Regions from separate parts of the Homo sapiens genome. Here region 1 is linked to region 2. Evidence: fine-mapped expression QTL. A gene starts in region 2. The other region holds a variant in brackets. All regions are shown on one strand. Distances are from middle to middle.

Evidence for each region. PIP is the estimated chance that this variant, and not a neighbour inherited with it, causes the effect. A credible set is the group of variants that fine-mapping cannot tell apart.
Region 1: its variant is the best candidate, but not a certain one, in a credible set for the expression of FKBP10 in sun-exposed skin (GTEx, PIP 0.56).

What each region holds. Positions count from the first base shown.
Region 1 is chr17:41,834,505-41,838,880 of GRCh38, forward strand. NT5C3B (5'-nucleotidase, cytosolic IIIB) reads right to left here and starts at 1,728. Exons shown (of 9, transcript NM_052935.5): 1 at 1,678-1,728; 2 at 1,355-1,453; 3 at 699-768; 4 at 566-612. The coding sequence starts at 1,689. KLHL10 (kelch like family member 10) reads left to right here and starts at 3,321. Exons shown (of 5, transcript NM_152467.5): 1 at 3,321-3,622. The coding sequence starts at 3,429. RefSeq lists silencers at 1,212-1,321, 1,452-1,831 and an enhancer at 2,252-2,331. The variant G/A (reference allele first, on the strand shown) is at 2,129.
Region 2 is chr17:41,810,605-41,814,980 of GRCh38, forward strand. It overlaps FKBP10 (FKBP prolyl isomerase 10), which reads left to right and starts at 2,400. Exons shown (of 10, transcript NM_021939.4): 1 at 2,400-2,675. The coding sequence starts at 2,431. P3H4 (prolyl 3-hydroxylase family member 4 (inactive)) reads right to left here and starts at 1,345. Exons shown (of 8, transcript NM_006455.3): 1 at 850-1,345; 2 at 528-680; 3 at 259-430. The coding sequence starts at 1,311. RefSeq lists a silencer at 975-1,464 and enhancers at 1,605-1,714, 4,201-4,376.

The DNA.
Region 1 (4,376 bases), 24 kb after region 2:
GGGAGGCTGAGGAAGGAGGATTGCTTGAGCTCAGGAGTTCAAGACCAACCTAGGCAACATAGTGAGACCCCATCTCTACAAAAAATTTTTAAAATTAGCTAGGTGTAATGTTACATGCTTGTAGTTCCAGCTACTCAGTAGGGCTGAGGCAGGAGGATCACTTGAGCCTAGGAGGTCAAGGCTGCAGTGAACAAAGATCAAGCCATTGCACTCCAGCCTGGGTGATAGAGTGAGACCCTGTCTCAAAACAAACAAACAAACAAGCTCTGCCATTTGGCTGTATGACCCTGGGTAAGTTGCTGAACCTCCAGAATGTTCAAATCTCTTGTAAACTCTATAGCCAACAGTAAATATAATGTCCAGTTCCAACCATTAATCATCATATGTCCTGGCCAGTAAGGAAAAGCTGTCTTAATGTATTAAAACTAGACCCTCCTTAGCAAAACAACAAGTTTTTAAAAATTAATTTTCTAAGGTCTCTATACTGGAATCTTTGGTTCCAATCAGGAACCATTTGAAGTAGCAAATGACAACCATTTCTGAGCAAAGGACGGGAGCAACCCACCTCTTTCCGACACTCCTCACTGATGATCTTGCTATTATCCAGAATATCTGGAAAAAGAGAAAACTCCTTTTACTTGTCCCTTAGAACCCATCGTCTTGTCAAGCTCAACAAGGGAAGCTAGAATGTGACTTACTGTAAGAAGAAGGGCATCGCTTTCCATTATATGCAAACCTGCTCAAGGTCATGTCAAAATCAGAAATCACCTATAAGGCAAAAGAGAGATGATGCCTAAATAGGCACCAGAATTCTAGTGTGGCCCTGCCTCAGCCTGGGGGATGATTATGGAAATCAATACAGCTCAGTGGCCAGGATGTAGGCAAAGCCCTAGGGGAGTTACCGAGTGACACAGAGGGATAGAGGGGAAGTGATCCTAATTAGTACCCGTTAACCCTGAGGAAAACGCAGTCTCCTAGTGTGGGGGCAAGGGTGAATACTCAGGACCCCTCTGACTCCTTCAATATCAGGTCCCTCCTAAGAGATCTCTACCATTACGGCCCATCTGGACATCTTCAACTTACTGGGGAGCCGCTGGCTTGGGGAGGATAAGGCCCTAGGTACTGGTGTGGGCGCCTTCTGTCCAATTAGAGGAAGCAGCATGACCATATTGAGAAATCTGAAATTTGGGTTTTAGGACAGGCGAACCAACCCGCTCTCCTTCAAGCTCCCGGCCATTTCTTGGGGCAGAGAGCTAGGAGGGGTCCGCGGCAGAGCAAAGCGGGAAGGCCCAATGGGCAGGAAGCCTCTCCAGCCGCCCCCAGCCCGGCCGGCCCCCGCACGCCCCAGAGGTACCTGTAACCGGTCTCCGCCGCCCTTGCGGAGGGCGCCCACGATCTCCTGCACCCGCCCAGGCTGCCGCATCAGGACCGTGGCCTTCATCAGGGTGCTCACCTGTCCCGAGACCCGAGAGAACCACTGACCCCTGCGCCACGCTGGGCCCGAGGGGAGCCCGGGGCTCGCTCGGGCGCGCGTGTGAGGCGGGGCCGGGGTGCGCGAGGGGGCGGCTACTGGCCTGGGTGAAGCGGCGGTGCCTCGGTGACCAGCTGGGGGGCTCGAAGCGCCCCGGGGGTCGGAGTCCGGGCCCGCCCCACTCCGGACGCTTCCTCCCTCCTCACCTCCTCTGCCATCCCGTTCGAGGCCTGGTCGGCGGCTCGCGGGACAACGACAGCCCCGCGACCGCACTGCGCAGGCGTCGCCTCCCGCCTGGAGCCCGGGCGGGGGTTGGTGGGGCCGGGGGCGGGGCGGGGGTGGGGCCGAGAATCGAGCGGTCCCGGAGATGGCCGCGATCCGGGTGGGCTTGCCGGTTGCGCTAGGCAAACTGGAGGAGGGTTCTATTTATTATGAAGAGCAGGGTGAAGGTCCCAAGGTGTTGGGGTTACGTGGGTAGGTAGGGTTCTGCCACTCTTTGTGGAGGAAAAGCCTTGCCAAACGTGGTCATTTCCAGGCTGAAAGTTTGTGACAAAAACATGACTGGGGCTGGGCGCGGTGGCCCATACCTGTAATCCCAGGACTTTGGGAGGCCGAGGCAGGATGATCGCTTGAGCCGAAGAGTTCGAGACCAGCCTG[G/A]GCAATATGACGAAACCCTGTCTCTACAAAAAATACAAAAATTAGCCGGGCATGGTGACACGCACCTGTTGTAGTCCCAGCTACTCGGGAGGCTGAGGCACGAGGATCACTTGAGCCCGGGAGATCCAGGCTCCAGTAGGCCGAGATCATACCACTGCACTCCACCCTGGGTGACAGATGACACCCTGTCTCAGAAACAAAAACAGAAAAACCACACGGCTGGATGGGAGGAGAGATGAAGGAGCCATAAACTGAATTCTGTTAATCACCCAGAAAGGGCTCTGTTAACTAGGCCATTCCTCATTCCAGAAGAAACTGAGTGACTAACCCATCCAGCGGGCTGGGAGACCCGGGACAGCTTTCTGAAATGTAATCAGCGTTGGCTGGGCACGGTGCGGAGCACTTGTAATCCCAGCTATTCAGGAGGCTGAGGTGGGAGGATCACTTAAGCCCAGGAGGTCGAGGCTGTAGTGAGTTATGATCACACCACTGCACTCCAGCCTGGGTGAGAGAGCGAGACCCGTCCCTAGAAAAAGAAAGATTTTTTTTTTGAGATGGAGTCTCACTCTGTCGCCAGGCTGGAGTGCAGTGGAGCGATCTCGGCTCACTACAACCTCCATCTCCTGGGTTGAAGCGATTCTCCTGCCTCAGCCTCCCAAGTAGCTGGGACTACAGGCATGTGCCACCACGCCCAGCTAATTTTTGTATTTTTAGTAGAGACGAGGTTTCACCATGTTGGCCAGGATGGCCTTGATCTCTTGACCTTGTGATCCATCCACCTCGTGCTGGGATTACAGGTGTGAGCCACTGCGCCCGGCCTAAGAAAGAAATTTAATCAGTTTTACTTCTCCCTTCAGCCTCAATTGACTTGGATTTCCTTGAGTTCGGTGTCTAGGGAGCCAAGTGTTGGGCTGTGGAAGGTAGATGAATGCTCCAGGGATAGAGACCTGTATCAGGTGAGTAACAGGAGCTGGAATCAATAAACACTCAGATGGTGCTAGTGGTCATGGTTCTGTTTTGGGTTCAAGGACACAGAAGGAGGTGTGAGGTGGTTTTCAGCCTAAGTGGGGTGGTAAGGAGGGGAGAAGGAAGAGGACAAGTCCAGGAGGCAGTTCCAGAACCTGAGAGCACAATCCTGTGTGATCTCACTGCAGGGCCAGGATTCTGGAACTTGGGTTGCCTGATAGACCCTATACAAAAGATGTAGTAGGGAAAAGGAGCGACAGCTGGCTAAAGGGGCCCCCCACAACCCTCCCCGACACCCTAGGAAAGCAGCCTCTCTCCGCTGTCCCAGGGTGCCATGGAGATGGAGAGCGCGGCGGCCTCCACACGTTTCCACCAGCCTCACATGGAGAGGAAGATGAGTGCGATGGCCTGTGAGATCTTCAACGAGCTTAGACTAGAGGGCAAGCTCTGCGACGTGGTCATCAAGGTCAATGGCTTTGAGTTCAGTGCCCATAAGAACATCCTCTGTAGCTGCAGTTCCTACTTTAGGTATAACAGGGTTGCCAAATTCAGCCAAAGGGGTAATTGGGCTCATTTTGAGACACTTTGATCCATTTTCTGTTTCCCACCCCATCACCTTAACTTTAGGGACACTGTCAAAGCTCTGGGCTCCTTAAAAATTAAAAAAAAATTTTTTTTTTAGAGATAAGCTCTCATTCTTTCACCCAGGCTGGAGTGTAGTGATGCAATCATAGCTCACTGCAGCCTTCAACTGCTGGGCTCAAACAATCCACCTACTCCAGCCTCCCAAGTAGCTAGGTCTACAGGCACATGCTGCTACGTCCGGCTACTTTTGAAATGTTCTGTAGAGAGGGAGTCTCGCTATGTTGCCCAGGCTGGTCTTGAACTCCTGGCCCAAAGCGATCCTCCTGCCTCAGTCTCCCAAAGTGCTGGGATTACCACTGTGCCTGGCCAACTCTGGTCCAGGCAGGAGCTCCTGCCTGGCTCCTTTGCCTTCTGAAGAGGCATGACTAGGGTCAGGGCCTTTTTTCTCTCTTTTTTTTTTTTGTTTGTTTTGTTTTTTTTTTTCCTTTTGCTCTTGAGAGATCTGATTTTTGTCTTTTTTTTTTGAGATGAGTCTCATTCTGTTACCCAGGCTGGAGTGCAATGGCGCCATCTCGGCTCACTGCAAACTCCGCCTCCCCAGTTCAATCCATTCTCCCACCTCAGCCTCTCAAGTAGCTGGGATTACAGGCGCCTGACACCACGCCCGGCTAATTTTTGTATTTTTAGTAGAGACAGG
Region 2 (4,376 bases):
GCACTGCCCTCTGCCTGGAAGGCCTATGAACCCAAGCTTCCCAAACCCTTTAGGGATGTCACTGCCTCTACTCACTGATCCAGCCCCTTGGACACTCCCAGCTGGGGCCCCTGCACCCAGCGTCTTTCTCAACAGACAAGGCCTTCCTCCCGGCTGGCTCCTCCGCATTCGCAGTGCTCCACGTGCATGAAGGGGACATCTGCCTTACCGGGCCCTGTGGGTGAGAGGACCGCCCACCGTGGTCTGGGTGGCAGATACCTGCTATGGCCGGGTAGAAGTCCTTGAAGTCCACCTGCTCATGGGCCCCTTCACAGCCGGCCAGGCACCGGGCAAAGACTGCCAGGTACTCTGACAAGGCCCGCTCCATGTCCTCCGTGCTGCTGCGGAAATCCCCGCTGTTGTAGAGCTTCACAGCCCGGAGGAACACGGCCTGGAAGGGGCGTGGCAGGGGGAGTCAGGGCGCCCCCAACATCTCCCCTCCTCTACTAGCCCTCCTCTACAAGCCTCCTCCTGACCCTCCACCCCACCTCGTAGGGCTGGGCCTCTAGGTCCGTGAGGGACTCGTCGGCGACGTCCAGCATCCCCTGATAGTAGTTGAGATACTTGGCGGTCAGCTCGTGCTTCGGGTTCCTCTGGAGGAAGGTGTAGGCCGCCGCCACCGCCTTCTCCAGCCGGTTAGCCTGGTCGGGGGGTAGGGGGTGGGGGAGCGGGTCAGCAAGACCGGAGCTCGCGGCCCCGAGCGCACGGCGGGCTTCGTGCCTTGGGTGAAGATAACGCTCCTTCGACCGATCTGTGGGGAGCCACGACGCCCAGCCCGAGACAGGTCCCCGGGTGGGGGCGGGCTCCCACCTTGAACAGCGCGTAGTGCAGGTACTGGTAGGGCAGGCGGCTCTGGAAGTCACGCAGCAGCTGCCGCGGCGGGTAGGGCACCTGGAAGGCGGGCAGCGTCCGCTTGCAGCGCCGCAGGCAGGCGGCTCGCTCCAGGACGCGGCCGAAGAGCCGCAGCTCGCAGGCCCACTCGTCTGCGCGGCCGCCGTCGGGATCGGGCTTGGCCGCGGGCGCGGGGCCGCTGCAGTTGGCGTGGCAGAAGGCCTCGCTGTCGCGCAGGAGCCGGTGCAGCCGCAGCGCCGCCTCCAGGTAGCGCGCGCTCTCGCGCCAGCTCTCTCCCTCGTACTGCTCCAGAGCGTGCCCGTACGCCGCGGCCAGCGGCATCAGGTCCTCGGGCGGGAAGCCCCGGAAGCTGTACTTCTCGTACTGCGCCCCGGCGCTGCCCAGCAGCAACCACAGCAGCCCCCACGCCACCCGAGCCATGCCCGCCGCGCCGCCGGCTCTCCGGAGCTGAGCTGGCTGCCCCGCGGACGGAAGGGGACAGGGCCGGGCCCCGGGCGGGCGGCGCGCCCGCTGGGTCTTAGCGCCGGGCACGAGGCGGCAAGGTGGGGCGGGGCCTGGGTCACGACGTCTCCCCTCTTTTCCCAGAGGGTCCGATAGTGTCGTTAAGTCCTCTCCGTCGGCCCGGGCTCCTGCCTTGGGGGTGTCCCCTAGGTAGAGAATGCGTCGGGGAGCGCTTCCCGCCAGAGATGGGAAGCCCAGGAAGCCCCTCCCCATGCAAACAGTGCCCCCGCCTGAGATCAGGACACTGAGTGAGGGCCGCCTCCTCTGCGCTGCCCATACGAGAAGGAAGCCCTGGAGCCGGGCCTTCCGTCGCTGCGCCCTCCTGCACCCTCCGAGTGTCTCCCCCGCCCACGTCGGAGGCACACACCTGCTGTCACCTGCACACCTTGCGCTGCCACCACCCCCCACTCCATCTCCGTGCCCGTCACATCCCAAGTCACAAAGTCCTTCTTTCAGTCCAGCTTTTGCGGGACCAAGCTGCTCTTCCCTGGAGATGCCTTCCCTTGGAGTACAGCTGGGGTCACGGATGAGCACGGAGATGCCTCTCACACTCCGCGGCTTCACCACCCACCTGGAGGGGACTAGAATTCGAAGTGCCCGCGAAAGAAGCAAGGTTCATCTCCGCCCGGCTTTAGGACCCGGGGGCTCCGGAAAAAGTCATTGAACTTTTTTTTTTTTTTTTCCTTTGGTGTCCACTCAGAGTTCTCATCTTTCCCGAGCCTCTCTCCCTGGCCAGGCCCCAGGTCTCGCAGCCAGGGATGGAGATGGGGGGAGGGGGAACCTAGAGTTCTTTGTAGTGCCTCCCTCAGACTCTAACACACTCAGCCTGGCCCCCTCCTCCTATTGCAACCCCCTCCCCCGCTCCTCCCGGCCAGGCCAGCTCAGTCTTCCCAGCCCCCATTCCACGTGGACCAGCCAGGGCGGGGGTAGGGAAAGAGGACAGGAAGAGGGGGAGCCAGTTCTGGGAGGCGGGGGGAAGGAGGTTGGTGGCGACTCCCTCGCTCGCCCTCACTGCCGGCGGTCCCAACTCCAGGCACCATGTTCCCCGCGGGCCCCCCCAGCCACAGCCTCCTCCGGCTCCCCCTGCTGCAGTTGCTGCTACTGGTGGTGCAGGCCGTGGGGAGGGGGCTGGGCCGCGCCAGCCCGGCCGGGGGCCCCCTGGAAGATGTGGTCATCGAGAGGTACCACATCCCCAGGGCCTGTCCCCGGGAAGTGCAGATGGGGGATTTTGTGCGCTACCACTACAACGGCACTTTTGAAGATGGCAAGAAGTTTGATTCAAGGTAACCCCGGTTGGGCGCCCCCGGATTCACCACTCCGTCCCCTGAACCCGGGGTCCTGTTTCCTTGTTGCCTCTTTTAAGCTCTGCATCCCAATACTCTAACCCTAGACAGCACCCCTGGGGCCTCCCAGACACCCATCTCCCCAAAGATACCCTCCTGCCCCCACTTCCAAACCCTCACTTCTCAAAGGATCCCATTTCTTTCTCACAAGCTCTCCACATCCCGGAAAGGACTCGATAATCAAGGTGAACTGCCTTGTGTAGTTACCAGGGCTGTATGTAATGACCTGATGGAGAGGGGTGTTCTGATCTACAGTGTTGGGGGGAAGGGGGTGGTCCCTGCTGCTTAAGAACCCTGGGATGGTCTATCAGCCTGGACCCCGTACCTTTCCACCCACCCTGACTCCCCTTCTGGTTCCACTGTTTTCAGTGCCTTTGTGGTCAGAGAAGAGGGAATAGAACTTTTTTTTGGAGGGGGTGGGAGTTTTCAGCGGCTGGTGGGCAGGGAAAAAGGCTGGTGGGTATTATAAGAAGACAGCCGGCTGGACCTGGGGGTAGCGCGTGGCTCCCTGCGGAGGCCCTGTCTACGTGTCACACAGTCGGACATGCCACCCTGGGCTCCTTGGAGGAATTTCATTCCTCCCTCTCTGGTTCTCCTGGAACCCTCATCTCTCTCCATTTTAGGTACACCAGGCCAGAGGCACAGGCCGCCCATTTTTGCCAGCCTTGGGGTTTGTAAGGTGGCCTCCTGGTCTGACCCAGGCCTTTGGTCTGCCCCAGCAAGTCCACTTTTGTTAGCGGGGACAGGGCAGGGCTGTATGCCAGCCTCAGGGGTAAATCTAGGGTCCCAGTTACACACAGACCCCACAGCACACTGAAAGAAGTCAGTGTTTCTTAGACCCTCCTCTGAAACACACAACTCAGCCCACAGGAAATTAGTGGCCATGACTTTAGAGGCAGGCATATATTGGGGTAAGCCTACAAACTCCAAGAGTCCCAAGACCCTGGTTCAAATCCAGGCTATGACCATGGACAGAGAATTTTGTCTCTTTAGGCATCACTTTCCTTATCTGAAAAGTGGAGACAAAAACAGGACCTACTTGCTAAGGCTGATGTTAGGACTCCAAGGACATGGATGAATGAACGTAGGCTTCTCACAGGGCCTGGCAGTCCTCCAGCCAGTTCAGCACACATTAACATTGACCCTGAGGAAAACCATATGACCTGATGCTGTGGAACTTGTAGAAACTTAATGCAGAGCTTAAGCCTTCATAACAACACTGAGAAGGAAACAGTCCAGACTTAAAACCTGTCTGCTTGGTGGGCAAATTCAGATATAGGGTAGTAGCCAGAAGTGCAGCCCTGAGCCCTTGACTGCTAGGAGTGAGGCAGGGGTTGGGATTTAGGGGATGTCATCCCTGATGGGGACTCTGGGAGCCCAGCTCATGAGTGTTGAGCTTGGAAAACTTTTTGTTTTTTAGCTGGAGGCTCACTCTGTCGCCCAGGCTGGAGTGCAGTGGTGCCATCTCAGCTCACTGCAACCTCCTGGGTTCAAGCAATTCTCCTGCTTCAGCCTCCCAAGTAGCTGTGATTACAGGCGCATGCCACCACGCCCAGCTAATTTTTGTTTGTTTGTTTGTTTTTGTTTTTTGAGACACAGTCTCACACTGTTGCCTGGGCTGGAGTGCAATGGAGCAATCTC